4 separate regions of the Homo sapiens genome follow, and all the other regions are reported to be linked to region 2. The links are microRNA targets in miRTarBase. Many come from high-throughput screens and were not tested one by one. Region 2 holds a microRNA gene; each other region holds the end of a gene's coding sequence.
The links. The annotated mature microRNA hsa-miR-4700-3p reads CACAGGACUGACUCCUCACCCCAGUG and lies in region 2 at 6,206-6,231, opposite strand. An mRNA with a match to its seed (bases 2 to 7 or 8) in the 3' UTR can be bound and repressed. Matches are read on the target gene's strand: a 7mer-m8 pairs with bases 2 to 8, a 7mer-A1 pairs with bases 2 to 7 and ends in A, and an 8mer does both.

Region 1: the mRNA of KANSL1 is a reported target of hsa-miR-4700-3p. Seed matches in the 3' UTR shown: 7mer-A1 at 5,897-5,903.
Region 3: the mRNA of SPATA13 is a reported target of hsa-miR-4700-3p. Seed matches in the 3' UTR shown: 7mer-m8 at 4,991-4,997.
Region 4: miRTarBase lists CHD1 as a target of hsa-miR-4700-3p. Seed matches in the 3' UTR shown: 7mer-A1 at 5,357-5,363.

What each region holds. Positions count from the first base shown.
Region 1 is chr17:46,024,525-46,032,638 of GRCh38, forward strand. It overlaps KANSL1 (KAT8 regulatory NSL complex subunit 1), which reads right to left. Exons shown (of 15, transcript NM_015443.4): 14 at 7,523-7,775; 15 at 5,392-7,179. The coding sequence ends at 6,952. MAPT (microtubule associated protein tau) reads left to right here. Exons shown (of 13, transcript NM_001377265.1): 13 at 1-3,810. Among named protein-coding and RNA genes, the nearest start is that of STH, 29 kb to the left of the region's middle. RefSeq lists an enhancer at 214-831.
Region 2 is chr12:120,721,350-120,729,463 of GRCh38, reverse strand. MIR4700 (microRNA 4700) reads right to left here and starts at 6,271; the gene lies at 6,198-6,271. UNC119B (unc-119 lipid binding chaperone B) reads right to left here. Exons shown (of 5, transcript NM_001080533.3): 5 at 5,824-8,114. ACADS (acyl-CoA dehydrogenase short chain) reads right to left here and starts at 3,638. Exons shown (of 10, transcript NM_000017.4): 1 at 3,533-3,638; 2 at 2,275-2,438. The coding sequence starts at 3,578. RefSeq lists a silencer at 3,319-3,828 and an enhancer at 3,465-3,966.
Region 3 is chr13:24,299,837-24,307,950 of GRCh38, forward strand. SPATA13 (spermatogenesis associated 13) reads left to right here. Exons shown (of 13, transcript NM_001166271.3): 12 at 565-639; 13 at 2,762-7,233. The coding sequence ends at 2,937. It also overlaps a transcript of C1QTNF9 not described here. Among named protein-coding and RNA genes, the nearest start is that of C1QTNF9, 5.7 kb to the right of the region's middle.
Region 4 is chr5:98,849,832-98,857,945 of GRCh38, forward strand. CHD1 (chromodomain helicase DNA binding protein 1) reads right to left here. Exons shown (of 36, transcript NM_001270.4): 36 at 4,154-6,894. The coding sequence ends at 6,549. Among named protein-coding and RNA genes, the nearest start is that of CHD1-DT, 75 kb to the right of the region's middle.

The DNA of each region.
Region 1 (8,114 bases), not on the chromosome of region 2:
CTGCTTCTGGGGGATTTCAAGGGACTGGGGGTGCCAACCACCTCTGGCCCTGTTGTGGGGGTGTCACAGAGGCAGTGGCAGCAACAAAGGATTTGAAACTTGGTGTGTTCGTGGAGCCACAGGCAGACGATGTCAACCTTGTGTGAGTGTGACGGGGGTTGGGGTGGGGCGGGAGGCCACGGGGGAGGCCGAGGCAGGGGCTGGGCAGAGGGGAGAGGAAGCACAAGAAGTGGGAGTGGGAGAGGAAGCCACGTGCTGGAGAGTAGACATCCCCCTCCTTGCCGCTGGGAGAGCCAAGGCCTATGCCACCTGCAGCGTCTGAGCGGCCGCCTGTCCTTGGTGGCCGGGGGTGGGGGCCTGCTGTGGGTCAGTGTGCCACCCTCTGCAGGGCAGCCTGTGGGAGAAGGGACAGCGGGTAAAAAGAGAAGGCAAGCTGGCAGGAGGGTGGCACTTCGTGGATGACCTCCTTAGAAAAGACTGACCTTGATGTCTTGAGAGCGCTGGCCTCTTCCTCCCTCCCTGCAGGGTAGGGGGCCTGAGTTGAGGGGCTTCCCTCTGCTCCACAGAAACCCTGTTTTATTGAGTTCTGAAGGTTGGAACTGCTGCCATGATTTTGGCCACTTTGCAGACCTGGGACTTTAGGGCTAACCAGTTCTCTTTGTAAGGACTTGTGCCTCTTGGGAGACGTCCACCCGTTTCCAAGCCTGGGCCACTGGCATCTCTGGAGTGTGTGGGGGTCTGGGAGGCAGGTCCCGAGCCCCCTGTCCTTCCCACGGCCACTGCAGTCACCCCGTCTGCGCCGCTGTGCTGTTGTCTGCCGTGAGAGCCCAATCACTGCCTATACCCCTCATCACACGTCACAATGTCCCGAATTCCCAGCCTCACCACCCCTTCTCAGTAATGACCCTGGTTGGTTGCAGGAGGTACCTACTCCATACTGAGGGTGAAATTAAGGGAAGGCAAAGTCCAGGCACAAGAGTGGGACCCCAGCCTCTCACTCTCAGTTCCACTCATCCAACTGGGACCCTCACCACGAATCTCATGATCTGATTCGGTTCCCTGTCTCCTCCTCCCGTCACAGATGTGAGCCAGGGCACTGCTCAGCTGTGACCCTAGGTGTTTCTGCCTTGTTGACATGGAGAGAGCCCTTTCCCCTGAGAAGGCCTGGCCCCTTCCTGTGCTGAGCCCACAGCAGCAGGCTGGGTGTCTTGGTTGTCAGTGGTGGCACCAGGATGGAAGGGCAAGGCACCCAGGGCAGGCCCACAGTCCCGCTGTCCCCCACTTGCACCCTAGCTTGTAGCTGCCAACCTCCCAGACAGCCCAGCCCGCTGCTCAGCTCCACATGCATAGTATCAGCCCTCCACACCCGACAAAGGGGAACACACCCCCTTGGAAATGGTTCTTTTCCCCCAGTCCCAGCTGGAAGCCATGCTGTCTGTTCTGCTGGAGCAGCTGAACATATACATAGATGTTGCCCTGCCCTCCCCATCTGCACCCTGTTGAGTTGTAGTTGGATTTGTCTGTTTATGCTTGGATTCACCAGAGTGACTATGATAGTGAAAAGAAAAAAAAAAAAAAAAAAGGACGCATGTATCTTGAAATGCTTGTAAAGAGGTTTCTAACCCACCCTCACGAGGTGTCTCTCACCCCCACACTGGGACTCGTGTGGCCTGTGTGGTGCCACCCTGCTGGGGCCTCCCAAGTTTTGAAAGGCTTTCCTCAGCACCTGGGACCCAACAGAGACCAGCTTCTAGCAGCTAAGGAGGCCGTTCAGCTGTGACGAAGGCCTGAAGCACAGGATTAGGACTGAAGCGATGATGTCCCCTTCCCTACTTCCCCTTGGGGCTCCCTGTGTCAGGGCACAGACTAGGTCTTGTGGCTGGTCTGGCTTGCGGCGCGAGGATGGTTCTCTCTGGTCATAGCCCGAAGTCTCATGGCAGTCCCAAAGGAGGCTTACAACTCCTGCATCACAAGAAAAAGGAAGCCACTGCCAGCTGGGGGGATCTGCAGCTCCCAGAAGCTCCGTGAGCCTCAGCCACCCCTCAGACTGGGTTCCTCTCCAAGCTCGCCCTCTGGAGGGGCAGCGCAGCCTCCCACCAAGGGCCCTGCGACCACAGCAGGGATTGGGATGAATTGCCTGTCCTGGATCTGCTCTAGAGGCCCAAGCTGCCTGCCTGAGGAAGGATGACTTGACAAGTCAGGAGACACTGTTCCCAAAGCCTTGACCAGAGCACCTCAGCCCGCTGACCTTGCACAAACTCCATCTGCTGCCATGAGAAAAGGGAAGCCGCCTTTGCAAAACATTGCTGCCTAAAGAAACTCAGCAGCCTCAGGCCCAATTCTGCCACTTCTGGTTTGGGTACAGTTAAAGGCAACCCTGAGGGACTTGGCAGTAGAAATCCAGGGCCTCCCCTGGGGCTGGCAGCTTCGTGTGCAGCTAGAGCTTTACCTGAAAGGAAGTCTCTGGGCCCAGAACTCTCCACCAAGAGCCTCCCTGCCGTTCGCTGAGTCCCAGCAATTCTCCTAAGTTGAAGGGATCTGAGAAGGAGAAGGAAATGTGGGGTAGATTTGGTGGTGGTTAGAGATATGCCCCCCTCATTACTGCCAACAGTTTCGGCTGCATTTCTTCACGCACCTCGGTTCCTCTTCCTGAAGTTCTTGTGCCCTGCTCTTCAGCACCATGGGCCTTCTTATACGGAAGGCTCTGGGATCTCCCCCTTGTGGGGCAGGCTCTTGGGGCCAGCCTAAGATCATGGTTTAGGGTGATCAGTGCTGGCAGATAAATTGAAAAGGCACGCTGGCTTGTGATCTTAAATGAGGACAATCCCCCCAGGGCTGGGCACTCCTCCCCTCCCCTCACTTCTCCCACCTGCAGAGCCAGTGTCCTTGGGTGGGCTAGATAGGATATACTGTATGCCGGCTCCTTCAAGCTGCTGACTCACTTTATCAATAGTTCCATTTAAATTGACTTCAGTGGTGAGACTGTATCCTGTTTGCTATTGCTTGTTGTGCTATGGGGGGAGGGGGGAGGAATGTGTAAGATAGTTAACATGGGCAAAGGGAGATCTTGGGGTGCAGCACTTAAACTGCCTCGTAACCCTTTTCATGATTTCAACCACATTTGCTAGAGGGAGGGAGCAGCCACGGAGTTAGAGGCCCTTGGGGTTTCTCTTTTCCACTGACAGGCTTTCCCAGGCAGCTGGCTAGTTCATTCCCTCCCCAGCCAGGTGCAGGCGTAGGAATATGGACATCTGGTTGCTTTGGCCTGCTGCCCTCTTTCAGGGGTCCTAAGCCCACAATCATGCCTCCCTAAGACCTTGGCATCCTTCCCTCTAAGCCGTTGGCACCTCTGTGCCACCTCTCACACTGGCTCCAGACACACAGCCTGTGCTTTTGGAGCTGAGATCACTCGCTTCACCCTCCTCATCTTTGTTCTCCAAGTAAAGCCACGAGGTCGGGGCGAGGGCAGAGGTGATCACCTGCGTGTCCCATCTACAGACCTGCAGCTTCATAAAACTTCTGATTTCTCTTCAGCTTTGAAAAGGGTTACCCTGGGCACTGGCCTAGAGCCTCACCTCCTAATAGACTTAGCCCCATGAGTTTGCCATGTTGAGCAGGACTATTTCTGGCACTTGCAAGTCCCATGATTTCTTCGGTAATTCTGAGGGTGGGGGGAGGGACATGAAATCATCTTAGCTTAGCTTTCTGTCTGTGAATGTCTATATAGTGTATTGTGTGTTTTAACAAATGATTTACACTGACTGTTGCTGTAAAAGTGAATTTGGAAATAAAGTTATTACTCTGATTAAATAAGGTCTCCATTCATGGATTCCAAGGACAAGAAAGTCATATAGAATGTCTATTTTTTAAGTTCTTTCCCACGCACCCTTAGATAATTTAGCTCAGAACAGGAAATGATAGTATTAATAAAAGCTGGACATCAGGATTAACAGCTCTCTCTGGGGCCCTGAAGGTGAGAGTTCTCAGACTTGCTCATTTGCAGTTGCTTCTTTGTGATGCTGGCAAACCATCCTAGTCCCATTCAAAGGGCAATACAAAGCCTTGTGGCTGACCTCACGATGCAGCACTCAGTTTGCAAGACCGGCACCAGTGTATGCAAACCTGAGAAGGTTGGGGATGAGGATATGGGATCTTTCATCCCTGGAAATTTAGTCCAGAGGCCTGGGGCTGGAGCAGAACACCAAGCCAATCAGCTTAATGAATGGCTTAGATTCCTGCTAGGTTTGCAGAGCTGCCTTCTTTCCTTTGGTACCTTATTATAGATTGAGGAGTATTTCTGCTAAACCAAGATAGGGATAACCAGATAGCATCTTCATAGCAATGCCACAAAGGAAAACAAAAACAAAACAGTAATCCATCATATTATTCCTTAGTAACTATGCCAAGGTCATGATACTGAATCCTTAGATTGTTTCAAAATACTACTTTTCTTTGCTCTTCCTGATGTGTTTGCCACCGCAGGCAGATGTTTAAGTAAAACAGATTTTAACTGCAGCTACAAAAGCAGCAACAGGCCAGCAAAAGAGAAGTGCTATCTCAGAGAGCATGGCTTTCAGAGCCACAAGAGACAGCCTCACTGGCTGTTTCAGCTTGACTGCCATGCAAAGAAGAGAGCAGAGGGAGAACCAGCCCCACCCACTTATTCATCTTGTACAAAAAAAAAGCACCTACCAGCCTAGGCTACATAGTGAGACACTATCTCCACAAAAAACCCACGAAAACTAGCTGGGTATGGTGGCACATGCCTACAGTCCCAGCTACTGGTAAGGCTGTGGTGGGAGGATCTCTTGAGGCCAGGAAGGAGATCCAGGCTGCAGTGAGCCAAGATTGCACCACTGCACTCCAGTCTGGACAATCGAGCAAGATCCCATCTCAAACAATAAAAAAAAAAAGCGTGTAACCTCCTCAGAAGAAAGATGTTATAATCTCAGGCAGCAGGCAAGAACCAATCCAGGCTCTAAGCAAATTATGTATCTCACTGACCCCACCAAACCTCAGAAAAATTTAACAGTGAGAAGCAAAATCTCCTTTAAAGAGCAACTTAGAACAGATAGAAAATATCATACAGCTGACTTCACTAGAGAGAAAGTGCATCAACTGCTTTCACTCAACAAAAAGAAAAAAGAGATGATCAATGCAGATCCCCTCTCCTCCTGGCAGCCCTTACCCTCAGTGAAAAGCCACCACCATTCTCTCTCTGGTGGCCATCAGATCAACCTGCGGCGTTCCCACAAGACAGAATGGAGATTTTCCAAGGTATAGAGCAAGTCAGAGTACCCCAAAGAACGGCGGCAGAGAGCCAGCTCCGAAACTGCCAACACTACCATGCATACACAGTTCAGTAAGTCAAGAAAGGCCTGGTACACAGCATTCTGTAACTTTTTTTTTTATTTTTTTCAATTTTTCCTTCTTTTTTTTTTTTAAGCACTAGTCTGTGCTTTGCGAACAGAATCAAGACATTAACAAAGATCAGCTTCTCTGAAGAAAAGCATTTCTATAGAACAAAGACAGCTACATGTTTCGCTGCCATTACACAGCTCCAAAGCAGGAAAAGAAAATATTTACAAAATACAAGGTTTTTTTTTTCCATTTTTTGTTTTTGTTTTTTTTTTCAATGCTAAAAGGGTTATTCAGAATTTTCAACCTTATAAATAGAAGAAGCACTTTATGCATAGGGATATGGTGCATTATTGTATTTTTTTTTAAAGAAACAATGACAAACCCTTTAACTTGCAAACAGAAAAAAAAATCACTAATGTTGAAAATTGTGAAAAAACCCCAACCATTAAGCAGTTGTCTACTATTTTTATACGATTACAAAATGGCCAAAAAAAAAGAGTCTTCTCCCCCCTCCCCCTTTTTGGTGATGTGATCATACAGGAGACAGGCACAAGGTTAACAGAGAAGGGTGAAGGGGGAACAATGGGAACCACAGCTAGGACCAGACAATGTTCCACAGGCAAGGGGAGCGTGAAAGACCAAGAGTGGAACTAACACCGACAGGGATCTGGATGTGAAGGAAACATGGCAAAGTGAATCAGAGGGAAAAAAAAAAAAAATCACACAGGGAGATGGCTGCTCACTTCCCACAACCCCCAGTTTGCAGGGGAGTGGGAATAGAGGTTAAGTAGTCCTAACCCTACCTTCAAAGATCAGGATAGGTGGTAAAAATATTCCAAGTGGAAGGACGGGTTGTGGGTGTGTACATGGCATGGGAGAGCAGACAGGGAAGGGTACCAAGGGGCATGAGGAGGGGAACCTGAGCAGCCACAGCCAGGTTACTGCAGTGAAAGAGTCAAAACAGAGAAGACCAAATGCAGATGAAACAAAAAATCAGTCTCTTAAGTTCTGGGTGAGAAAGGAAAGGTGTTCTGCCAGCTGAGCACTCGGGGAGAGCAGCTGGCAGTTATGGCAGAGAGGCTCTGGTGGGGATGTTCCAGCACGAAAAACCAAGGGGACCCAGCCAGGAGGGCCACAGCAGAGCCAAGCCACAGATGGGAGGGGAGGGGGTAAGAGTCCAGAGCACCCTGCCCCATTCCACCCTAGCTCAAGAAGGCCATGCTAAACTGTAGCCCGCCAGGCTGTTCTGCCCTGCCCACAGGTGTGAGGGAGGGGGTGGTCATCTAAGATCAGTAAGTCCAGTGATTCAACAGTGCAGAGGATGTGCCAGGACCAGGCCAGCAGGGTCTCATCCTGAACTTCTGTTTGCCAACGGGAGGAAGTGCTCAGGTGTGTGACAAGAAAACATGGAAACAAAAACAAAACAAAAATTAAAACAAGAAAAAAAAATACCAAAGTAGGATCTAAATTCCTTAAGTTCACTAAAAACTGTGAAAATTTCCGGCATATGATGTTTGAATATCAAACGCAGAGATTTCTGAAGCTTTAATGCCAATAGTTAGTGAGTCTGTTTAGATGGCTGTCTCCCGCTCATCTGTGAGTCGGGCGCTGAGCTGTGGCTGCTGCCACCAGATGCCGACTCTTGAGGGGGACAATGGGAGGCGAGGTGGGCGCTGCCTCTGTCTCCCGGCCAGTCTTGCTGCCTGAGGTGCGTCGAGTGCAGCGGGCTGCTCGCTCCTGTGCATCCAGCTGGTCCTCACACTCCGCCTGGGGACTGTGCGCCAGGGGGAAGGTCCGCCGCTCCCAGGGCTGGACAGACTGTAGGCAGACAAGTTGCTCTTTGAGGACCCAGTCCCAGCCAGCCTGCTTCCTGCTCCAAGGCCCTGCCACAAACCTTGTGGCCTGGAGCCTAGGACCAGTCTATCTAGTGTTCCTGCGACAGTCTGGGAACACCCCTCCTAGGGTATACCCAGACAACTGTATTGATCATTTAGCAGTGATCAATACAGTTCCACTGAACGTTGAGGAGATCAATTTAAGTGCAGCCCTTTGTCCCTTCAAAAGGGGGAGGGGATGGCTAGGTCCCTCTTCAGCAGATGCTGCCCCTTCCTGGTTCCATCCCCCAACCATGCCAACCCCACCCAAAGGCTGCGTCCCTTACCTGTTCATCCAGCCCCAGCTCTGGTGTGGAACAACGGGTATCCTCACTGGCTAAGTGTCGCGGAGTGTCCCGAGCCACAGGGGTGAGGGGTGCTGAGTGCAGTTCCGGGCTAATGGGGCTCCTAGGGGACTGACCATGGGAGTATTCTGACAAAGAGTGGCTACTGCTGACATCAGGGGAGGCAGGCTGGGGGGTGGAGGGGTTGGCACTGCCCAGCTGGGGGGTTGTCCGGCCGTCTGATGACCTGTAGGACCTGCACACCAAGGAATGCAAATCTGAGTGCCTGGGAAATGTTTACTTATGGGGGTAGAGGGCATGAAAAAAGCATCCCCACTGGAGGAGTTGAGGCAAACAAACACCAACAGATTTTCCTTAGGATCCAGCAACTCCCATTTCTTCCCACTATTCTCTGGAGGGGTAGGTATACAACATTTACCATCCCAAGAAAAAAGCATGGCTGAACAATGCCAGGTGAGTCCATAGCAAAGTGCCTAGTGAATTCAGGAGGTTAGGGAGATTCGTGTAGACTTTGAAAACTGTAGTCAAAGAAAAAAAAGTAAAAGTAAGAGCTCCCAAAACTTTCTACTTGAGA
Region 2 (8,114 bases):
CAACATGGTGAAACCCCATCTCTACTAAAAATACAAAAATTAGCCAGGCATGGTGGCGGGCACCTGTAGTACCAGCTACCTGGGAGGCTGAGGCAGGATAATCACTTGAACCTGGGAGACAGAGGCTGCAGTGAGCCAAGATCGCACCACTGCACTCCAGCCTGGGGGACAGAGTGAGACTCCATCTCAAAAAAAAAAAAAAAAAGAAAAAAGAAAAAGAGAAGCAGTCAAGGGAAAAAAATGGGTTCGGGTTTGTCCATCGTTTCTGACCTATGTAAATTGATGGTAATTAACTAACAGCAGCCAGGCGCCCGTCCCAGCCCCAATATTTTAGTATTTTCTACAGAGAGGCCTGACCTTCAGAGCTATCTCAAGGGGTGGCCTCCTAGAGCCCCCTGCAATGGTCACTCTTGGTTCCTAGTGTCTGTGACCCAGCAACCCTGACCTGCACCCTGAGAAGAGGCAACAGCACTGATGAGGCTGAGCCTGGTGGTCTCCAGACTCCCAAGAGAAACCGTAAGAAACTGTAAGACCCCTTTCCCAGCAGTGACAGACAAGGCAAGCCTGCAGCACCTGCTGCCTTCATATCTGGGAAACGGTTAGTGGGTCCCTCATATAAAAACAATGTTTTACGTCCCTTTTAAAACTCATTTTTAAGGCCGGGTGTGGTGGCTCACGCCTGTAATCCCAGCACTTTGCGAGGCCGAGGCGGGTGGATTGCCTGAGCTCAGGAGTTTGAGACCAGCCTGGGCAACACGGTGAAACCCCGTCTCTACTAAAATACATAAAATTAGCCGGGTATGGTGGTGTGCGCCTGTAATCCCAGCTACTCGGGAGGCTGAGGCAGGAAACAATTGTTTGAACTCAGAAGGCGGAGGTTGCAGTGAGCCGAGATCGCGCCACTGCACTCCAACCTGGTGACAGAGCAAGACTGTCTCAAAAAATTTTTAAAAATAAAAAATAAATTAAAATTAAAATTAAAAAAAAAAACAGGCAAGGAGAAGAGGCCGGAGAGGTTTGACTTTTCACAAATCATTAATTAAACAACTATCTACTACTGAGTGTTTACACCAGGTGCTGGACATCTTTAGGTCAGCGTGTACGGCAGTAACATCTTCAACGCGTAGCTGCAGACAGACTGAATGCAAATGGAAGAACACAGTGGCACGGGAGGGAGCGCGCTGATGGGAAACTCAGGGGAGAAAACAGTTCAAGCAGGCCGGGCACGGTGGCTCACGCCTGTAATCCCAGCACTTTGGGACGCCAAGGCGGGCAGATCGCCTAAGGTCAGGAGTTTGAGACCAGCCTGCCCAACATGGAGAAACCCCATCTCTACTGAAAGTACAAAAACTAGCTGGGCGTGGTGGTGCCCGCCTGTAATCCCAGCTACTGGGGGCCGAGGCAGGAGAATTGCTTGAACCCAGGAGGCAGAGGGGTGCAGTGCGTTGAGATTGCGCCACTGCCCTCCAGCCTGGGCAACAGAGCGAGAGTCCATTTCAAAAAAAAATAAGTAAATAAAAAAGAAAATAGGTCGAGCAGGCTGCCGCTGATGAGCTCCATGACCTTGGGTATGTTATTTAACTTGTTCACAAGTCTGAGTCCATGGGGTATATAATAATACTACCTTTGGCCGGGCGTGGTGTCTCACACCTGTAATCCCAGCACTTTGGGAGGCCGAGGTGGGCAGATCACCTGAATTCAGGAGTTTGAGACCAGCCTGGCCAACATGGTGAAACGCCGTCTTTACTAAAAATACAAAAGTAGCGGGGCAGAGCAGTGCACGCCTATAATCCCAGCTACTTGGGAGGCTGAGGCAGGAGAATCACTTGAACTCAGGAGGCAGAGGCTGCAGTGAGGCGAGGTCGCACCATTGCACTCCAGCCTGAGCCACAAGAGTGAAACTCCGTCTCAAAAAAATAAATAAGAATAGTACCTTCACCTCACAGGACCGTTGTGAGGAACAGATGAGATAACCCATCTCAAGAACAGTGCCTAGTGCATGCCAAACACCCTAAAGGCACTATTTAGAATGAGCACAGTGGCTGGCACAGTAAGCAACTGACCATCCACCACATATTACTGTTGTCCCAGAAGTTAAGTCCTGGCTACTGGCCACAGGCTGGACAAGGGAAACTTCCAGAGCATTTTCTGGGTTCCAGGCCCTGCTTTGGGGTTCCTCTACCAGAGTCCGAGTGCCGCTGACTGTCACTGCCACCATTCATCCAGTAGCAGAGGGCAGACCACTATCGTGGGCTGCTGAGGTTGCACTCTCACCTGAGCCGCTGGGAAGAGATGTTCCTTATCCACCTGGGCTGCAATGGGAAACAACTCCTTCTCGGCAAAGTCCCGGCATGTCTGGAGCAACATCTGGTGTGTCTCGGGCAGTTCCACAGACTGGTAGATGGTGTGTAACTGCCGCCAGGCCCTAGGACAGAGAGCTGCCGGCAAGGGCAGAAGTGAGTGGAAGGAGGAGGCAGGAGGTCTCCAAGAATCCTAGTGACCCACTAACTCACCAGGGAGGATTTTGCCCTCCAAGGGACATCTGGCAATGTCTGGAGCCAGTTCTAGTTGTCACAACTAGAGCAGGGGAATACTATTGGTACCCAGTGGATAGGGGTCCGGGATCCCTGCTGAACATCCAACAAGGCAGAGGACAGCCCCCACAACAAAGAACTGTCAGCCCAAAATGTCCATGGCGGCCACTGAAAACCCCATACTAACTGAATGCTTAGTACACTCACTAGACATTTCCATACACTACATCCTTCAGTCCTCAGTATAATACCAACAGTAATAAGACCTCAGCTCTGTGACCTTAGGCAAGGGTTTTAAACGTCAGTGAGCCTCCGTTTCTATAACAAGTGGAGGCGAATAGTATTCCGCTCCTCGGAGTGCGAAAGAAAGACTAACTAGCGCTTAACACAGTTCTCAGTAGCGTTCCCCTTGTAATTCAGGCCAGGCAAAGGAAGCCGTGGCTATATGTGTCACGGCTGCTACAACTGGAGACACGTAAGATGGGAAAGGTACTGTATTAACCAGCAAGAACGAGCATTTGTGGAACACCTGTTACACGCCAGGCACGAAGTGCTTTACATACCCTATGATTTAATCCTCCCAACAACTCTGATTTTCTCTGTGGACATTTTACACATGGGCCAACCGAGGCTGAGGAGGGGCTGTCTTGCCCAAGGTCACAGATGCGGGTCTGGTTCAATCCCAGGCCTGGCTCCGGAAGAAGGACGCACCCTGAACCTCTAGTGGGGGTGAAATGAAGGGAGGGAGATATGGGAACTGGGAACTGGGCTGGTGGCTGGGGTCAATCGGGGGGTAGGGGTCTGTGCAGGAACCAGGGACGCCTGAAGGGCCGGGCTGGGTCGGCGCAAGGAGCAGCAGAACTGGGGCAAAGGCCGTGAGCGCTCCCGGAGTGGGGCTCCGCCTGCCAGCGGCTCTGACAGAGCCGGCCGCCAGGACCTCCGCCCGCTGGGCCAGACGCGGGCTGAAGCCCCGCCGTACGGATCCCCAGCGCACTCACCTCTGCGGGCAGGGCCCGAGGCCCGGGCGAGCAGCGCGGCGGCCATGGGCGACAGACACAGTCCCAGGCTTCGCGACCTCCCGCTGCGAGCGCGCTGTTCCGGAGTGCTGGGGGGCGGGACCCGGGACAGAGGCCACGCCCGTAGGGCCTCGGGAGCGGGGCCGAGGTGCGCTCGCGGCCAGGGGGCGGGGCCTCCAGTGGTCCCTCCCAAGGCGAGGAACCGACGCTCGACTGCGCGCGCGGTCGGTCAGCTGGCTGTTCGTGCCCACATTCGTTAATCAAAATGCTAACAAGAGAAAGCTAAGGATAGAGCTTCGCAGAAAGGCCAGAGAGGTCTTTTTAAAGCATAAATAAGATAGCGATCTTCGGGTTAAAACTTTGTTGGCTTTGTCGGCGGGCCCATCCCTCCTAAAATCCAATTCTATGGCTTAAAAAGCCAAGACCTGCCTTGTCTATCAGGGCCCATGCCCACCGTTCCCTGGTTATTGTTGCTTAGCTTTACGAGGCAGCTCTTCTCTAAGACCCTTAGCTGGTTCCTGACTCGGGGCCTCTGTGATCACTGTTCCTTTTGTCTGGAATGCCCCCTCTTCGTTTAGGTCTCATGGATGCCTGCCCTGACCACACCAAGCCGTTTCTCCCCCTCTGGCTCTCTATCTTTCGTTCTGTTTATTCAAGGCACTTTGCATCTGAAATTATCTGCTTCCCCGACTCGCTCCGAGAAGCTCAAGGACCTGTCTTGTGTTGGTGCTCAATATTTAGGCCCCTGGAGTTGGGCTGCAAGGAAAGCTTTCTTTTCCCCAGAGGCTGTGAAGGTGGGTGGAGATGCTACCCCCGTTCCACTTCAGTACTGTGTCTCATTCCCGATTGGGGCAGAACCCAGACACATATTTGACCCCTAGCATCCTCATCAGGACACCTTTGCCCCGCCCAAGAAACTATGCTGATTTTACTTGTCCCATAAGGGTCTTCTCTTGTGCAAGTGTGATTCTGATTCCCATAGCCTCCTGGGCACCACCCACGCCCTCCCAGGCACCCACACATCCCTCCAACTGCCTTTCTTTCCCAGCACTCAGCCAGGCAGGCATCTGTTCCCAGCATTGACCTATTTGCCAAAACTTCTGTCTCTTCCTCTTGGAGGAAAGTGGAAACCTCGGTCACTACTTCCTAGAAGAAAGCCAATCAAAAGATGCAGCAAAGTCCTTAATGTGTTACCTTTCTTTTTAAATAATGCATTTAAAAGAACGCCTCTAAATTCTCAGTACTTTAAAGTCAAATGAATGGCTCCCATTGGCAAATGCTCTAAGGGCTTCCTCACCTTTCCGTCATCCCACCTGGGAACCAGCCCTGGGTGGAAGAAACGATGAAGAAGCAGGAGAAAAGGGAGAAATAAGTGAGTTGTGTTTGTGAGCAAAGGCCAATAATTGCTTCAGGTGCCACAGAGCATCTAAACCAGACTCTTGAGAATTTGTGACTGTAAATATGAACGTTCAAATTTCATTTTAAAAGTATCCAAGTTTTCCAATAGAGACAGAATCAGATAGTGGTTGCAAGAGGCGAAGTGGGGGAAGTCACCTGGCTGCAAACACAAGGAACTCAGGAACTTTCTGAGTGGGTACGATGGAAATGTCCTATATCATGATTGTGATGGGTAATAAAAGTATTCATTTGTCAAAATGCATCAATACTCTTAATTGAGGTAAATTTTACTGTAGTTAAAGTATTTCTTAATAAGCCTACCTTTATGGCCAGCCACAGTGGCTCACACCTGTAATCCCAGAACTTTGGGAGGCCAAGGCGGGTTGATCACCTGAGGTCAGGAGTTCAAGACCAGCCTGGCCAACATGGGGAAACCCTGTCTCTACCAAAAATACAGAATTAGCCGGGCGTGGTGGCATGCACTTGTAATCCCAGCTACTTGGGAGGCTGAGGCAGGACAATCACTTGAACCCGGGAGGCGAAGGGTGCAGTGAGCCACCATCATGCCATCACATCCCAGCCTGGGAAAAAAGAGCGAAACTCCATCTCAAAAAAAAAAACCCTACCTTTAAAACATGCATGTAAACTTTCAATTTACAAAGCCACTCACCCTGGGAAAATATAAAGCAAAAATATTAAGCCTAAAGTCCAGTACAATTCCTCAATCACCCTAGAAGCCAGCTATACTCTAGTTCAACTACTTACAGAAGGGCCACATAATAGCCAAAGTAAGAGAAACCTGGAGCCCCCATTCGCCCCTGCTCCCCTCAGCAACACAACGGGCCCAACAATCAGGAGACAGGACGAGGGAGACGTACTGTGAAAATCTTTCTTTTATTACTGTCTCATGTGGCAAAATAACATTTTATACAAATAAGTCACCTAGTTTACTTTGGACACAAAGACAATAAAAACTGGAATGTGATTTTGGGGGAAGCGGGAAGGAGGAGGAAGGACAGATCAGGTCATTGATGTTTCTTATATTCTGTAAAAAATAGATTTACAGGAAAAAAAATAGACTTTCACAACTTCAATGACTTTACACGGTCCTTTGTAAAACCAGTGGTAAATCCACCTCCACCAAATCCTTCTTGAGGCTGATATGTTCTGTGACATGGAATGTGAGTAACACAATGGTTCAATGATTAGGCTCCTACACCAGGTACAGCAGCACCTGATGCCACAGGAATCCTCGTGCACTGGGGTGAGGAGTCAGTCCTGTGAATTTCAGGACACACTGTCCTCATCCCCAGACCTCACTGACATCATAGTGACACTGGCCATCAGAAGAAAGTGACTTTACAGAGGGGAAAAGAGTATCCTGGAAGCGTACCGGTGGGGCAGGACACACTAAGGCAGGACTCACCCAGTTTGTACATTAGACACAGCCTATTAAATCCATTCCAGAAATGAGTTCCACTTCAACTGAAAAAATAAACTGAAGATTGCCCAATCACTGCCATTTCACAAATTTCCAGTTTATGGTCAGCCCCAAAATCACATTCTTCCACCCTATGTATTGGAAATCAAATGGCCCAAAGACTGAGGTGTCTTCAGGAAGCACATGCTTGAAAAATGTTTTCTCTGCAAAACAGTATTGAGTAATACATAAGGAGACATAGCCTACTTTAGCCCAAAACTTCTTTCACTTGTTATGTCCTTTTACCTCTTAAAACATAGAATGAAATAAACTCGGATCTTCTTTGGAGAAGCTAGAAGGGCATTTTGGCCCAAAGGCTGTACAGGAAAAGAGAGGCTCTCTCCAGGAGACTGCAAGGCAAAGGAACAGAAGCAGGAGGGGCAGGCCCTCTGGCACCAGGTGGGCCTGCTACTCTGATGAAATGTGCTCCCAGCTCTTGACAAAGGGCAGGGTCTCCTATGCAGGTAGTTTTTTTGCCGCCTCCCATTGTATCACCCACAAGGTAACTGCTATCAACAGTTCAGATTCCTTAATAACATGGCAGCCTGAATGGTTCTGTTACTTTCAGAGAAAGTATGCCTTGCAATTCTCTCCCCAACTCAGGTACAAACGCTTGAATTTCAAACTCATACTGGTTTACACCCCAGAGTGGAATGCTTCTCAAGATTTCCTGAGCAGCTAGACACAGGAACCCACAGCCCCAGATACAGAACACCAGACTTTCAGAAGCAGCAAAGCCCTGTCCTGCTGGGCATGGACCAAGCACTATCCGCAAATGGTCTCCAGTGAGACTAAGGCAAGCTAACAAGGAAGAGGATACAGCACAACTCAAGCCAGATTGCCCACCTCCTCCTTCCTCCACATCCTCTTTCTAGCAAAAGCGAACACTGCAGATAAGAGATAGCCCACTAATGTAGCAGATACAGTGTGCCCAGGGGCATGTTTCCAAGACACACTCTACTAAGCACAGCTCTGGGCAGCTCCAGAACCACATCCCAGATAATACTCAAATATCAAATAGTAGAAACTGTCCCACCTGGGCCTCTGTCAAAGAGAGAAGGGATTGTTGTTACGCTTGACAGGAACATGCAAATCCCATTTGAGGAGCCACAATGAGAAACAGAAGGTGAGGAGACAGTGCTAACAGCCCTGGCATCTTTCTGCCAGTGAGGAGGTGGGAACAATGGCAATGCAGCTTTCCCCTGCAGCATAAGGGACAGAGCCACACGTAAGGCACCTGGATTTACAGTGGACGCCAGTTCTGAGAGTGGCCGGTCTGGTGATAAGGAACCCACTCCACAGGAGGAATGGTCTCTCCCCTCTCTCGGGGCTGAATCCAAGGCCAGCACACAGGGGTAAGCTAGGACCTTCTCAGTGAGAAAGCTGCCAGCATGTGGCATTGCCAAGACTCTGGCCTGGGACAAAGCACTGGGCCAAGGTTCGGGGCCACTCGCCCTAAAGCCCACACAGGGAGCAGCACTGGTGGTGGATGGACAGGAATTTCTGTGGCCACACACTGTCTCTTCCATCCCTGGCCCCCATACGGCCTTTCTCCCAAGCACATCAGGACACTCTCCTGTCACAGGTACTGTGACACCTCACAGTCACTTACCAGATACCTGGGCCTTTCCTAGTGACATCCTTCTACTGATGCTAACTGGACCCTGGCCACATCAATCGTCTCAT
Region 3 (8,114 bases), not on the chromosome of region 2:
ACTCTTGTTTCACCCAGTTCACACACTGCACACGTACACTGTCACTGTGCTACTGGACTTTACAGTGAGGGAATGCTCAGGGCACACACTACACACAGCTGGGGTACAGAATCCGCTACCTGCTACTCACGTGGTACCTTTGTTCAGGGTGGAACTGCTAACGTGCAAAGCTCTCATAGCGTATGGGTGAACACGCCCTGGGACCCTTTGCTCTGTCCTCTCCTTCTGGGGCCTCATCCTTTAGGTTATAATTGGGATGACCCTGTGGGAATATTTGCCCGGGAGCGTCGGGCTTCACACAGACATTCTGCATTCTCATGAGCACCACCCCATTTCACTCTCCAAACTGTCCGGGTTTGCAGGACAATCACATGGCCACCTTGGCGATAATCCTTGTGACTTCCCCTTTTCTGATCTTCAACCTGTCCACGTTCTTTGAGGATTAAGGTTCTCTGTCTCAGGTTGTGGTGATAACCTCAATGCTGATATGGGCTGTGATACAAGTTTTGCTCTGAAACATGTCCACGTGTTCTGAATATATATCACATTTATTTCTAAATGCAGGAATGGAAATTTCAGAAAACCAGAAGAAACTTGCCATGTTAAATGCTCAAAAGGCAGGACATGGAAAGTCAAAAGGTAAGTTATGGAGAAGGCTTTGTCCCCTTAATGCTTATCAGTATTCTCCTGAAAATGGGAGCATACCCCAAGTTGTCAGCCTGTGACCAGCTTGGAGCAAGGAGAACAGTAGAAGTTAGAACTCAAGGGCAGGTCCAGAACAGGGGCCAGGTGAAGGTGGCCTGTGTTTGGTTTTGAATGTGCGTCAGTGTTTGCTTCCATTGGAATGTGGGCATAGGAAACCTTCAGAGGGGCTGCTGGAGGGTGGTGGACCTCCTTGCCTGCCTGGGGCCCCTCTGCTCCCCTCCCCCAAGTGCTGATGGTGTTAGCCACAAGGTCACGCACATCCCCAGTCTGAGGCAAACCAAGGACTCTTGCATCTTTTAGGCATGAGAGGACAAAATCTCAAACCCCAAACTGCTTGTCAGCTGTAGGCTGGATATAGTCTAGTTTAAGTAAGAAAAAGATGTAAAGGTTCGGTACATCAGGCAAGGAGTTAGACAAAAAAAGACACGTGAGCTGATTTAGGGCGGTGATTCCCTAATCTCCATGCACATTAGAATTCCCTGGGGAAGCTGTTCAAAAATGCTGATGCCCAGGCCGCATACCCAGGGGCTCTGATGCACTAAGATTTGTCCACACAAATCTGGCCCAACAGGATGCAGATAATCTGGCCCAACAGGAATTCAGTAATAAGGATTTTTCCCCAAAAAATATGCACTGTATTCTTAGAAACTTTATTCCCGTCATCTTTCTACTTTAAAAGGCATTTACCCCATGAAATGTATCTCTTTTGGTATTTTCCTGACTGCAAATGCAAAAACAAGGACCAACGAATCCCAGGACTGCAATAGACCACTGACCTTTAGTCAGTGAAGAACTGATTCCCCAAACCACACTTAACACTCCCCTGCTTTCTCCATGCAAATGCAGAATTTCTTTTCCCCACTAAGTTACAAATATCTTTAAGGCAGAAAAACCCATGTTATTAATTTTTTTAAATCTCCACTTCTAATGTCAGATGACTAGTAAATCAATTTGTTAGAATACATTGTTTTCTGTCCATATCTTCTGCGAGTCACTCGCCCAGCAGCCAGGCTTCTCAAGAACGGAAGGACTGCTGACGTTCACAGGTGGCTACCGGGTGGGACGCTGTGCCTGGGTTATCTGATTTCTTCCTTCCTGCCACCTCGGGAGGTAGGGAGAGCCTTCTGGCAGGCCAGGGGCAGGGACGGGTTCTGAGCCAAGGCCTTCCTGCTTTCAGGGCCCACCCTCTTCGTGCCATGCTGACTTACACAGTTACGTTTTAATCTAATCGCTAATTTTAATAAACCTTCTAAATTACCTCTGCACAGATTAAAAATACCTATGCCGGTGAAGTTTTGATTAGAGTGATTAGATATTGAGGGCACAGTTCTAAGCACTTTACTTCTATTAATTCATTTAATTCTCATAGCAACCCCATAGGTACTGTAATCCCCGTTTTAGGGATTGGGGAACCAAGGCGTAGAGAAATCATATCATTTCCCCAGTAATCCCAGCTGATAAATGGCACAGAAGAATTTGGGCCAAGGCAGCATGAGCTCCAGACTTCCATTTAGAGCATTTTATTGCTACTCACCTTGACTGTCAGTCTGGTTCAGATTCTGCCACTTCCCGCTGCACGTCCTGGCATTCAGTTTCTTTCCCTGTCAAGTTGTTGTCATAATACCCTCCTTGGAGGCTTTTTGGGAGAGTTCAGTGAGAGAGACTGTGTCACGCTCCACACGGAGTACCTGAACATAACAAGTGTAGCTACTGGACCTTCTTTTTGGTTAACGTGAATTAAGAATTAGCTCTCTACAAAAAAATATAAAAATTAGCTGGGCGTGGTGGCACACACCTGTAGGTCCAGCTACTTAGGAGGCTGAGGTGGGAGGATCGCTTGAGCCTGGGAGGTAGAGATTGCAGTGATCCAAGATCACACCACTGCACTCCAGCCTGGGTGACAGTAAGACCCTGTCTCAAAAAAAAAAAAAAAAAAAAAAAAAAAAAAGAATTAGCTGAGAACTTGGACTTGGAGTCTCAGCATTTTTATTTTTTTCCTTTCTGGTTAACAAGCGACCCTCAGTCCCTGTTCCATCTCTCTCCCCTCCCGAGTCAGGCTACAACAGGTGCCCTGTGGCCCCACCGCACCAGGGCCTGCACCCCATCCACCAGCGCCACATCACTATGCCCACAAGCGTCCCCCAGCAGCAGGTCTTTGGCCTGGCGGAACCCAAGAGGAAGTCCTCGCTCTTCTGGCACACCTTCAACAGGCTCACCCCCTTCCGGAAATGAAAACAGGAGGCTGTGCTTCCATGGAGCTGGGTGTCAAGAGAAGAACTGTCTTTGTTTCTTGTGTGCTTCAATCCAGGGAAAGTTTCTTGGACCCAGTGATAAAAACTTCCTTTTAGGGATCAATGAAGGAGAGAAGGTCTTGGAATCACCTTCAGTCTTTGGAGACCCAGCTGCCTTTGTGGAAGGGAGGAGACGGTCATGACACAAAGCTTTATCCTACACAGAAACACCCGTGACCCACTATGAGATGGCCCAGATGTGGGACCCGGTACCATGCTCTAAAGCGAGTGATTAGGCAGCAGCTGAAGCCACCCCTGCTGATGATGAGCAAGTGCCTGCTGCAGGTCCAAACACAGCATCCAGGGCTTTGCAGTTCCTAAGGAGTGATGAGGTTAGAGGATCACTTCTGCATTTGATTTTCAAGGATGCCGTCAAGACGGGGTTGACACAATGCTGCACGTGTCTGGTCACACTTAGAAATTGAGCTCTTACTCTCTTCTGTAATACTGGGGGACCTACAGCTGCCGTGGGGCTGACCACGGTGTTCCCTGGCATCGTCTGTGTCCACACAGATGCTAACTGGTAGTGCAAATGTCATCCTGCAAGGTTCCTCTTCCTGCAAGCAAAGTGGAGAGAAAGAAGATGCATCTGTCACCTTCATCAGGGTCCTCAGTGCAGAGCAACTTACGCATCCTCAAGAATCCACTGCTTTTCAGGCAAGGAGGGAGAAATCCTGCTGCACACTGGCTTTGTCCCGGAGTCGGATTCCCTCCTGCCTGCACGCCTTCAGTAACTCCGAGCAGAAATCACATCTTGCCCACATGCTGTAACCTAAGAAACTGCTATGCAAGGCTGGGTGCTGTGGCTCATGCCTGTAATCCCAGCACTTTGGGAGGCCAAGGCAGGTGGATCACCTGAGGTCAGGAGTTCGAGACAAGCGTGGCCAATATGGCAAAGCCCAGTCTCTACTAATAATACAAAAATTAGCTGGGCATGGTGGCGCATGCCTGTAATCCCAGCTACTGGGAAGGCTGAGGTAGGAGAATCTTTTGAATCTGGGAAGCGGAGGTTGCAGTGAGCTGAGATCGCACCACTGCACTCCAGCCTGGGAGATACAGCGAGACTGTCTCCAAAAACAAAAACAAAAACAAAAAACATTCAAACAACTGTTTGCAATATAAAAAGCTCATTTACTGTAATATTTATGATACAGTGAATATGAAAATGCACTGGTCAGAAGGCACTCTCAAAGAGCCGCACTGCTCCTGACATCGTCCTTAGCAATGAAGTCACAAAGACAGCCAAAGCAGTCCTGCTTCTTGGAAATCAGAAGCTGCCTTTATCACATATAAAGCCAAACAGGGCATAACCATGTCACGTGAGCATGTCATCAGGCTTCTGAGGACTTGTTCTTTATAAAAAAAGACCTTCACAAAATATCTTGGCTTAGAGATAGCAGTCTTTATTAACAAAGGCCACCTAGGCTGACACCTGCAGATAATCATCTCCTTTTCTTTGTCTATGTTGTACATTTTCATGATATAACTTTTAACTATGTCTAGAGAAGGCAGGCTCTGCAAGAGAGGTGCCCTTTCAACCCGCTCAGTGCCCTGGACAGGAGATGCTGTGTTAAACTGTTAATGGATATCTATATGAGAAGCTCATTTTTGTATGCTATCCCTGCAGTTTTTTTTTTTCTAACAGGCCCATGTTTGAGAATAAACAAGTCTGTGATGTCAGAGACAAAGGTGTATTCTTCAGTCTGCAGGTGTGTGGCACCTCCCTTCTCCCCTGCAGCCCCCCACATCCAGAGCCGTTCCTGAGAGTGACATCATGCATCAAGAAAACATAACCTTGGTCCTCAGGTGAACCCTTGGAACATTCTGTGACCGCCTGATGTCCATTCTGAGCCACCTTGGCACACATGCTTACAGGCAGCACTGCTAAGGGTTCAGGTGCCCCATGGCTGACAGCCCGAGTTGCTTCTGTGGACCATCATGCCGCTCGGCACGTCCTGAGACAGAAGTTGCTGCAGGAAGGAGCTTCTGGAGAGGTCCTGTGGCATGTGTGGGGGTGTGTGTGTGTATGTTTCCTTCTTGAACAGACATTCCAACTTTAGATGTGTTTATAGAACTGACCTTTTTACTAACAAAATACAATGATATATGTTGGAAACTACTTAATATGCTTTTCCTGCACACCTTAGCAATAACTGTAGGGGTCTCTGCTAGAGTTGTTTGTATGTACAGCAATTTTGAACAAATTGTTTTAAATGTAATATAAGAGAATTAGTTTAAGGAAGTAAAGAGAATCATTTGCTTGTGTTACATTTTCAGTGAGGATTCAGTTTAAGAGTCATTCTTAGGACTTCCATTTCCTAATATTTATTCATGGGTAATGAAGAAATGGTTTGCATTTTGTGGCCAGTCCTAATTTATTTTCCAGCTGAGCCCTAACTTCCGGCTCCCACCTACCTCCACGGACTTCCTAACAGAGACTTATGAATACCAGGATGTGTTTTTGTTAAGTCAGGTTCAATTCGTTGCCCCTGTCAGTTTTATAGAGTGTGAGGGTCACTCCATTAAAGATCTCTCCTGGGTGGATCCTACTTGGATGTTCAGGTGATTTTGAAAACTGCTAACATTTTTAAAAGGCTAGAACATCCTTTGACTTCTTGAAAATCTGCATGTCTGGCTTGGGTTTTATTACCACATGCCTGAGTTCTTCAAGAATGGAAGGCTCAAGTATTCTCATCTTCCATTTGCCAAACTTCCTTCCTGATTTGAGTCACGTGTTCCACTTGGAAAGAAAGGGAACAGAGAGCCTCCTCCATGGACAGTGTATGAATTTCATTGGGAATCTTGCTCTCTCCCGCCTCTATGCCTTTCTCTCTTTTTAACCTTACTTTACATAATATTATAGATGGGCCAAGAAAAGAAAAGATGACATAACATTTTGATGAATTTCACCTATTCCATTCTTCACGTTTCAGAATTGGTCGACTTTGTTAGAAGATAATTGAAGTAGCCTTGGGTCAAAAGCAACCTTTTCAATTGTGATCATACCTAAAACATATAAAAACCCTGCCGTAGATTAAAAGCAATTATAAAATCATAAAATTGAATGTTTGCAGAATCCTGGAGCAGTAGATTTCTTTGTCTTTGGCCTGCGGACTAGAAAGAGGGCAGCAGTAGTATGCTGGAGCTTCCCTGGGATACCAGCCACATGGTTTCTTTTCATTAGATCTGATTTTTGTTTCCCACTGTAGATCTGATTTTGTAGTTGAAAACATTTCACCACCATCAAACACTATTTCTGAATATTGTGCCTTTTTATACCTAGCCTAGATGAAAACCGATGCCATTCTTATTCAGAAAATCCCCCCATCCTACATGACTGTTATCTAGACATAAAGCAAAGTGCATTTAATTCAAAATTTGGTTCACAATATAAGTATTTTGTAAAAGCCAGCTGAACCAGCATTTTATCAGGTGGAAATCTCTGCAAGCCAAATTGCTGATACTCCTTCATGCAGATCAACTTGGTGTCCCAGTCAGAATAGAACAGCATAATTACCTGGAGTTAGGGGGAGTATTTCTGCACTATTACTTGTCAGGGAGAGAAGAAACTTAGAATTGTCCCTCAAAGGAGTGTCAAGAAGTATGAATAAATGTCCTTTCACCAGCTCACAGGCCAGAAATGGAGGACCCAAGTCAACTAGGTGAAACTACTAGCAGACCCAGCTTTCCCATAATAACCTAATCTGCAAATTGTTCTATTAAAGTCTCATTGTTTTCAGGATGCAATGAAAGTGGATTTCAAAAGGCTTTGGAAAAATAAGTGGAACATGACTGATCTTGAAAAAAAAAGCAAAAGCTTAAATATTTGATACAAGTTTACTTAGCTACAACATACTTTACATTGTTGCCTTTAGTTATCTCACAGGCACTGACATTTTATATTTAGAAAATACTTTTAATCTTTCTAATCTTTTTTTGTAAATATTAGTGTCCATTCTGTATGACTCGCTAACCTACTTTGCAAGGCTTTGGGCAACATTTTAGCTCATTAACTTCAAGATGATGTGTCATCTGTATAGGTCAAAGAATGGGACTTCTGAACTGAGGAATTTGCTGTTGACAGCCAAAGTATAGTGTACAAGATTGATGTAACTTGATATGTATTTTTGTTGAAGTTTTTTGTAAAAAAAAATTATTTACAATGTTATTTGAATGATTTTTTTAAATGCTGTGAATCTATATTTGTTGTTTTGTATATTAAAATTCATTTGCCAAACTCGTTCTGATGATGCATTTGAGTAGCAGCCTTTAAAAGGAGGAAGTGGAGAGCTGGGTGCGGGGGCTTCTGGGATTTGTAGCTCCTCTGCTGCCCTGATGTCCCTAGACTTCTCAGTGGCAACAACTCATCCATTCAGGAGCTCCATGTAACCACTGGGTAGGCGTGGGAGAAGGGGGGCTCCGAGGGCAACCTCGGAGGGCACCCTGGCTTGAGAAACGTCAGTGGTTGGAGTAAGAGGGATGCGGAAGGGAGCAGTGGGGCGGGGCCGCTTTTGCTAGGGATCATGGAGAGGAGACAGAACAACAGACTGTGCCCTCTGACTGCCCCTGAAGGCTAGGCCCTGCCACAGGAGCTGTGCTAGTGGCCCTGCTCACTCGCCCTTTGCGGGTGGGTAGATTAGAATTTCCTTCTCCAACAGCTCAGAAGAGCTAAGTCAACAGCCCATTGTTTGCTGTGGCTGTAATCAGAAAAGGATTCCTATGAAGGCTGCCAAGTGGCTACTGCCCACTTTTTGTTTACTCTTAATATCCACCTGCTTCCCAAAGTGATCTGCTCCTCCCAACCTTGGGCTGCACTGGGGAAGGGCGGTCGCTAGGGTGGGGAGGGGGCGAGCCCCAGAACCCATAGGGCAGAGCATAGTGGCTCCATGTATAGGACACAGTGAAAGAGATGGGGGTGGCATTTTCTTCCAGGAGAGTTGTGGGGAGATGACCGTTAGGTCATAAGCGCGCCCCTACTCTGCACTGGCGAGACCAGCAAAGCTGGAGTGAACCCAGCTGAACCTGGGCCGCAGCAGCCCCGGAGGCTGGAGGCGCTGCAGTCGGGAAACACCAGGAGGATGGAGCCCTTTTCCCTGTAAGCAGGAGGCCAGGATCCTG
Region 4 (8,114 bases), not on the chromosome of region 2:
TGTTTGAGACCAGCCTGGGCAATATGGTGAGATCTCGTCTCAAAATAAATAAATAAATAATAAAGAAATGTAGTGGAAAAAGGATAGTCTTATTAACAAATGGTACTGAAAAAATTGGATATATAATATTTAAGCAATAACAAAACCCACAACTTTGTGTGTTCCACACAACATACAAAACATCAACTCAAAATGAATCACAGACATACTTAAAAGGTCAAGGCTGCAGTGAGCCATGATTGTGCCACTGCACTCCAACCTGGGAAAGGAGGATCACTCAGCAATAAAAGGAAATGAACTACTGATAAATGCAAAATCATGGATAATTACAAAAGCATCATGCTAAGCAAACGGCAAACTCAAAGGGCAACATACAATATGATTCCATTTATATGACATTATGGGAAAAATAAAACTATAGGAACAAATCAGTGATTGCCAAGGGCTTGGTATAGGGGAAAGGAGCAAAAGAGAATTTACTTGATAAGATGGAAATATTTTATATCTTAAGTACGCTGATAGTTACAACAACTGCATAATCTGTCAAAACTCATCATGCTGTACACCTAGAGAAGGTGAATTTAACTTGGGTAAACATGATGTAAATTTCTTAATGGGAAAAACCTAGCAAGTAACAGCAAGAGAGGGGATATTTTTTGCTTTTGCAATTTTACTTTAAAAACATTGGAAATACAACATATTTCTCTTAGTGTTTTTACAAGTCGTGTTCTTGTGCGTTAAGAAAGATAGTGTATCATGATACCTAAAAACATATTTCCTTTCGAAAGATAAGGGAATAGACAACCCAGTCACTGTGGCTTGAGTCTGTAATCCCAGCTACTTGGGAGGCTGAGGCAGGAAGATTGCCTTGATCCCAGGAGTTCGATACCAGCCTGGAGCAATATAGCAAGACTTCACTTCTAATTTAAAAAATAATAATGAAGAAGGTTCATAAGAAAGGTAAAGCAATAGACAAATCAGAATGTTTTATATTTTCCTATTATATACCACATCTCTGCATATCTCTTCGCAAAGTATCAATTATATTTCCTAAGTAGCCATATAGTTACAGAAACCAGTTTTTCATTTAAGCATTACTGTATTATTTATAACAGTGGAATTAACCTCTATATTAATTATTCAGGTAAATGAAAGAGATATTAAAGCCCCATTACTTGGAGCATTTCCCTGCCATTTTAATTCCTAGAGATGAGGCTTATGTTTTTCTATATTTCTCAAGTACCTCCGGTGATTTTTATCAGTCAAGTTTAAAAACTGGAAGTTAGTAAACAGACTCAAGTAATCCATGAGATAGTAAGGCATACGATAATTTCCAATACTAACAAATCAGGTTAACAACGGTAAGACAAAAAGTTTGGTAATGTTGGCCATTTATAGGGCATAGCATTTCCGGGAAGGACATTAAAAAAAATGAAAATATAATTGATACAAGGCATTGTTTTAAGTACTGAGAATATAGCAGTGAACAAAATAAAGTCCCTGCCCTAATGGAACTTATATTCTAGTGGGGAAGCAGTCAATGGCAAATGAACCAAATATATAAGCTGTGGTAATGCTAGAAGAAAATGCAAGATAAGGGATTTTTAAAAATGATGGGGCAGGGTACTAATTTCAAGACTTGAAATGACATTTGAGCTGAAAGAAACCTGAATTGAGGAAACGAGTTTTGTACAAGTCACAAATAAGCTTTTTTTTTTTTTTTTTTTTTTTTTTTTTTTGAGACGGAGTCTCGCTCTGTCGCCCAGGCCGGACTGCGGACTGCAGTGGCGCAATCTCGGCTCACTGCAAGCTCTGCTTCCCGGGTTCACGCCATTCTCCTGCCTCAGCCTCCCGAGTAGCTGGGACTACAGGCGCCCGCCACCGCGCCCGGCTAATTTTTTGTATTTTTAGTAGAGACGGGGTTTCACCTTGTTAGCCAGGATGGTCTCGATCTCCTGACCTCATGATCCACCCGCCTCGGCCTCCCAAAGTGCTGGGATTACAGGCGTGAGCCACCGCGCCCGGCCAAGCATTTTTTAATAGAGGGACAATAATGCAAAGGCCAAGAAGTATTTTCTTTGCATTGACAGGAGTGGCTGAAGTGAAGCAAAAAGAACAGAAATAGCTAAGAAGTGCCTTAGGCAGAAAGCTGTGAATGCATTTATCAAAGACCCTAGTTTTTAAAACTTTCTCTTTTTTTTGAGGCAGTCTCACTCTGTCGCCCATGCTGTAGTGGTGTGATCTTTGCTCACTGCAACTTCTGCCTCCTCGGTTCAGGTGATTCTCCTGCCTCAGCCTCCCGAGTAGTGGGGATTACAGGCGCATACCACCACACCCAGCTGATTTTTGTATTTTTAGTAGAGACAGGGTCTCACCGTGTTAACCAGGTTGGTTTCAAAGTCCTGATCTCAAGTGATCTGCCTGCCTCGGCCTCCCGAAGTGCTGGGATTACAGGAGTGAGCCACTGCACCCAGCCTTGCAGTTTTTAAAACTTTTAATGTCTTAGTGTAAAAGGGTTGAGTTTGGTTTTACATATTTTAATATTACATATCTATTAGCTGTCTAAGTGGAGATGAGTTCAGGGTAGTGGTTGAAGCTGAAGATAGCACTAGAAACAGGAAGAGAAAAATAGTACAGCTGTTGAGAAAGAGAGAGATCAGAAATTAAGTCTTATGATAGCAATGATATAGGATTCCAGAAAGTAAAAAGAAGTGGGTAAGAGGCAACAGCTGATAAAAAAAGAAATTTAAAAAAAATAAATAAATAAAACCACCACACCAGGACTTAATATAGTCAGCCTGCAGAACACTAGAGACAAATCAAAGATTTGAAAAGTAAACAGAAGGAATAAAAAAAAGTAACTAGTGGCAGTTCCATAGCTCATTCTAGATTGGAAATCTAATTAATATTAGTCAACAATAATGAAATGATAATACATCACACATTTTTCAGTCACATAAAGTTTGCATATCACCAACGGAAACAATATCCTTAGCTCATTTAATAGAATCATTAGGAGTTTTAGACTGTTCATACCTCTTTAGTTTCATATTTAGATCAGGACTCAAATGTGGAGTAGAACATCGAATTAAAATAATTTCATTCATTTGGGAGTTGGAACTACAAATTTTGTTTCAAATATAGATGTAATTTTTTTTTTAAGCTAAAGGGCAGAGTGGTTAGTGGCCTTTTAGTGTAGAAAATCCAGCACATGAAGCCCCATTAGAGAATTTGTATAGGTACTTGGAACAACCTTTTAACATTTTTCATTAATCCTACTTTCCCCAGTAATCTCATCTTTCATCCTTTTACACCATAGCTAAGATTTCCTATTCCTAGATCTTCCTATGAGAATTCAATGAATTTCTGTAATGGAGTCAACCTATTAGGTCCTAATTTTTTAAAGAAAATTAGCATGAAGTGTTCTACAAAATCAATTACTAGTTATTGTCAGAAAATATAATCTCAAACTTTCTTCCAAATATCTATAATTGAATCTTAGAAATTTTCACACACATTTTGACACTATCTCAAAATATTTGTCGCATTACTATCTAGTTGTGTCCTCTATAACATCCTCCATTCACTACAATTATTGTACAATGCTAAAATGTATCTAAGTTTTGTCTGCATTTTCAAATTGAGTATTTAATGTATATTTAATAGAGGCATCTATATTAATGTGCTTTTACATATTAACTCAGAAATATTTTAAAATATTTTTGCAGTTTCCTATGAAGCTGAAAGTCGTTTTTTAAAATCCTGTATTTAAAAATTAGTTGCTCTTCCAAATCCCTATCCCTTTTTAAGCTGTTGTATTTATAAAGCTATTTGTATTTATAAAGCTATGACAGCTAATTTGGGGTGCAAAGATTATTTTCTAGTTAGAAATAGTAATGGGGTAGAGTAAAAATCAGGCCATTTACTCCTAGAGCATATTCTTGATAAACTTCATGAAAATGAATAACCTACTCAACCTTTTCATATTAACTACAAAAAGAAATTATAATTTATATTACATAAAATTAAAAAGGTTCTCATTAAGCTACTCACTCTGAAAATAAAATTATTCAAACTCATTTTCCATAGTCTGAAAATTAATTTCTAACATACTCTAAACAAAGAATATCTTTATAAGCAAACAGGCTATTGCTTTTAGTAAGAATTATTTATTGTATAAAAGTGGAAGGTTAATTGGTACAGTACTATACATAATCTCTCACCCTTGAAAAATTAAACATAACTGGATAAAAATAACAAAGCAGAATGAAAACAGAATATTTTATGGAGAATGTTCTGCTATATTTATGTACTAATGTTCTTCACCATTGCGTCTTAATTTTTCTGATTTCTTACAAAAATGAACATATTTTATCATTTGATAAATGTACATACAGTTCTATATTTTTCATTCAACTCAGCTAACTAGCTGACTGAAACTTTCAACTAAATGTAGCACTATTTAAAAAATTAGAGCCTTATCTCAGAAAATGCAACATTGTTCTGTGAAATTTGCACAATATAATGCAAATATCTTAGCTTTTAGTAATAAATTAAAAAATGCCAGCCACCATCTTATGACTTAAGCATTATGAATTAGTCAAATGCTATCTTGTGGAATAAAATAGTCATACTAAATGTAGAGAAAAGTGATAAAAGTTTCAAAAATGTGTGCCAGGACTACCTTCATTACTTTTATATTTAATTATAAATTAGATGTTTAAAAAACTGAGCTACTCCCTCACATGTTCTCTCATATACCAGAAAAGAAACAAAGCATTATTATTCTTCAGGGTAACTGTATCAGAAAGAGAAATTACTGCAAAAAACAAAACAAAAAGCAAAAAAACCCACAAGCTTTTATACACATAAACCTAATTGGACAAAGGAAAATATTAAAAAATACACCTATGGACAAATATCTGTAGGTTGCTCCCACAGCTAATTAACAGTGACACACATAGCAATACTATAGAAATTATGTCCACATACTTATATTCGTCAAAGATTCAAATTTGTTACATCAAAGCATACATGCAAGAATGTGTGCCACATGACTTAAAAACTTCCCGCTGAATATAAAACAAAATAAAAATCTGTGAATAAATATAAAGCATCCCATAATAATATCTGTAGGAAGCCAAAAGGGGCCAACAAAAATGTCTATGACCTAAGTTTTACTTCATAGGAATATTCATAGTCTCCAAAACAGATTTAGTTGTAATGCTACACATTACAAATATTCAACTGCTTACCAAAATACTTTTTCTGGCAGCAAAATGTTACTTAAAAACGGGGGTAGGGGGCGGTGGTGGTGGTGGTAAGTGCTTGAGGGAGTAAGAATGCAGCAGAAAATTACAGGAGCCCACATATCCTTTTTCTTAAATTTAATTTGTCATATATAACGTTTTTATATACAATCAGTGTGCATTGTAACAGTTTATATTAAAAGTCAATCAAGTTTATCTAAAATGTTAACCTGGCTGCATAGCACATTTGACATTATTGCCCACATAAAACGGGAAAACAAACGGATTTACAATAACTTTTGGCCGTTTTGGATTCTGAAAAGTGTTTATACACCTACCCTTTTAAACCAGATGCATCTGAAAAAAGTGTTTCCAGAGCATGCAGTTTAGATTTTACATATCTCGCCATTTTTTAAAACTACAAACACAATATTGACTAAAAAAGGAAAAAAAAGGGAATAACATGTATCTAATAAAATATTCAGTATAAAAAGAGGACTAATGGAATTAAGTGGCCCCTTTCCCCATTTTTACATTCTAAACAATGATTCCATCAAGACAAATCATTAAAAAGTGTTATTACACTGATTTTTTTTTTTTTAATAAGAAGGCCTGAGTTGGTAGGGAAAGGAACAGTCAAAAAAAGCCTGAGAAAGGGAAGGAAGTAAGGAAAGTTCCTTTAATATTTACAATAATTTACAGCCATTTTTTTTGTAAAAAGGCATAATAGATCACAAACAGGAAATTCCTGGCTATTTTACAGATATAAGTACAGAATTTAAATATTCAAGCTTGTGATGAAAAGCGGCAAGGTGGTCGCAGTGTACAATGTAAACAAGTAGCTTTGGAAATGAACAAAGTCCTTGAGTGTTTTTCTTTATTAAGAAAGAACTCTCTTTCATTCCTTCCTGAAACATGATCACAGGTCAGAGTAAAGTTCATATATAAACATAATTTAAATGGAGGTCAGTCTAAAATCACTGACTTAAAAACAGTTTTATCCAGCCTGTATGGGAGGGCAGTGTTGAGGTCCCTGTAATAGTAAACATTTTCCATTTCTTTAAAAAAGAAAACAAAAAAAAGTACTACAATTTTGTAGTACAGTGCAGCATAATCCTTAAATATAAAAATATTTTCTCTTCTGTTGGGATAATAGACCTTGCATCCTGGAAAGAAGTAACAATACTGCTACTGATAGAAGATCTGTTTATATCTTTCAAGTCATGTAAGGCAATTACTGTGTTGGTTTATGATATATGGCTAAAAGAAAAGTCCAGAAAGACGAAGTATCAGTTTTTGTTATGTTTTCCGACTACTCCAGGTATGCTCCGGTGTACTTTTGTGTTCAACTGAATGTTCAAATGGAGATCTGGAGCCATAAGGAGATCTCTGATCTAGTGGTGACCTAGGGCCACTGCTGGAAGCTCTGTGGTCCATTTGCCAGTCTGAGTGATACCTATAATCCCTGGAAGATTTATGGTGCGTATATTCAGAACTTGACCGGTGGTCTGAATGTAACCGATGATCTGAGTGAGAACGATGATCAGAATGAGATCTATCTTTTAAACTTCCTTCCAAATTTGACCTGTGATCTCTACTCCTGTGATCATCCAGTTTTCTGTGTTTCTCTCTGTCACTGTAATATCTAATAAAGAAAAATTGAGAATTTTAGACAAATCATGCAAATTAAAATGTTTCCAAATAAAAGATAACTAAAAAACATAAAAATACCTTAAAACATGTTTTTAATTGTATAGAAATTCAGTGTTGCATTATAAAACTTACTTAATTAACTCAAAAATCACTGGATATATCTCTTTGGAAAAACTATTTGATTCATAAAACTAAAGCGAACCATACAAAACCCCTAAAATAGCATCTAATTTCACATGGCTATTTTAGATAATTAGCTGCTTTTTATTTTACACATCATTTATATGACTGCATCTTAATTGTCTGGAAGCTGAAATTAAGATTATTACAACTATCTGAAATACTCCTGAGACCAGAGCCTTTTACCAACCTCTAAGCAGGAAAAAGTTTAAAAATGCTAGAATGCAGTCTATGCTGAAAAATTTTTCACTGGTTGCTGATGCCTATTAAAAGCTTCCTCAAGTTTGACTAGTTATATAGTAAGACTCGACACATGAATCATTACGAAATTTACTCCATACAAACATGTGACAGCTTGATAAAAAATAAATGTGGCAGTTTAATGAGAATTATTCTCTAAAATGAGTGCCTTTTCCAAACTGACACACACACAACTGTAACTATATTGCATAAGCCTGTGAAATATATACTATAAATCTGCCTTTTCCTTTTAATTATTTGACCCCTTCAAATAACAGCCATTCTACAACTGATGTGTTCATAGTGCTGACAGAGGTTCTCAAAGAAATTATTGTAATGAACACTAAAATACAAAGATGTCTTCTAATTTGTTTCTTCTACTTACTATAAAAGCATAAATACTATAAATCTCAGTTTTCAAGTTTACTTTTAGTAGTGATCATTAACTACCGAAAATACTTCTTTATCAATAAAGGAATAAAAAGTATTCTGATGTTATTACACTGAGGTTGCTTACTGTTCAAAGGCTTCAAAAAACAATAAACAAAAAACCTTCCTGGTTCCAATAATATTCCAGATTGCTGAGGTTAAGTTTTACCTCAATGAGATGTGTTCACATATATTAATTTTTCCCGACTTTTTAAAAATATGGAATGCAAAATTTCCTAAACCAAACCTGAATCACTATTATATCAAGCTTTTATCCCACTTATTATATTTTAAAGAGTATTTGAGCCAATATTCTTCAAAACGAACAATGAACCCCACGCAATTTATAATCATACAACTCCC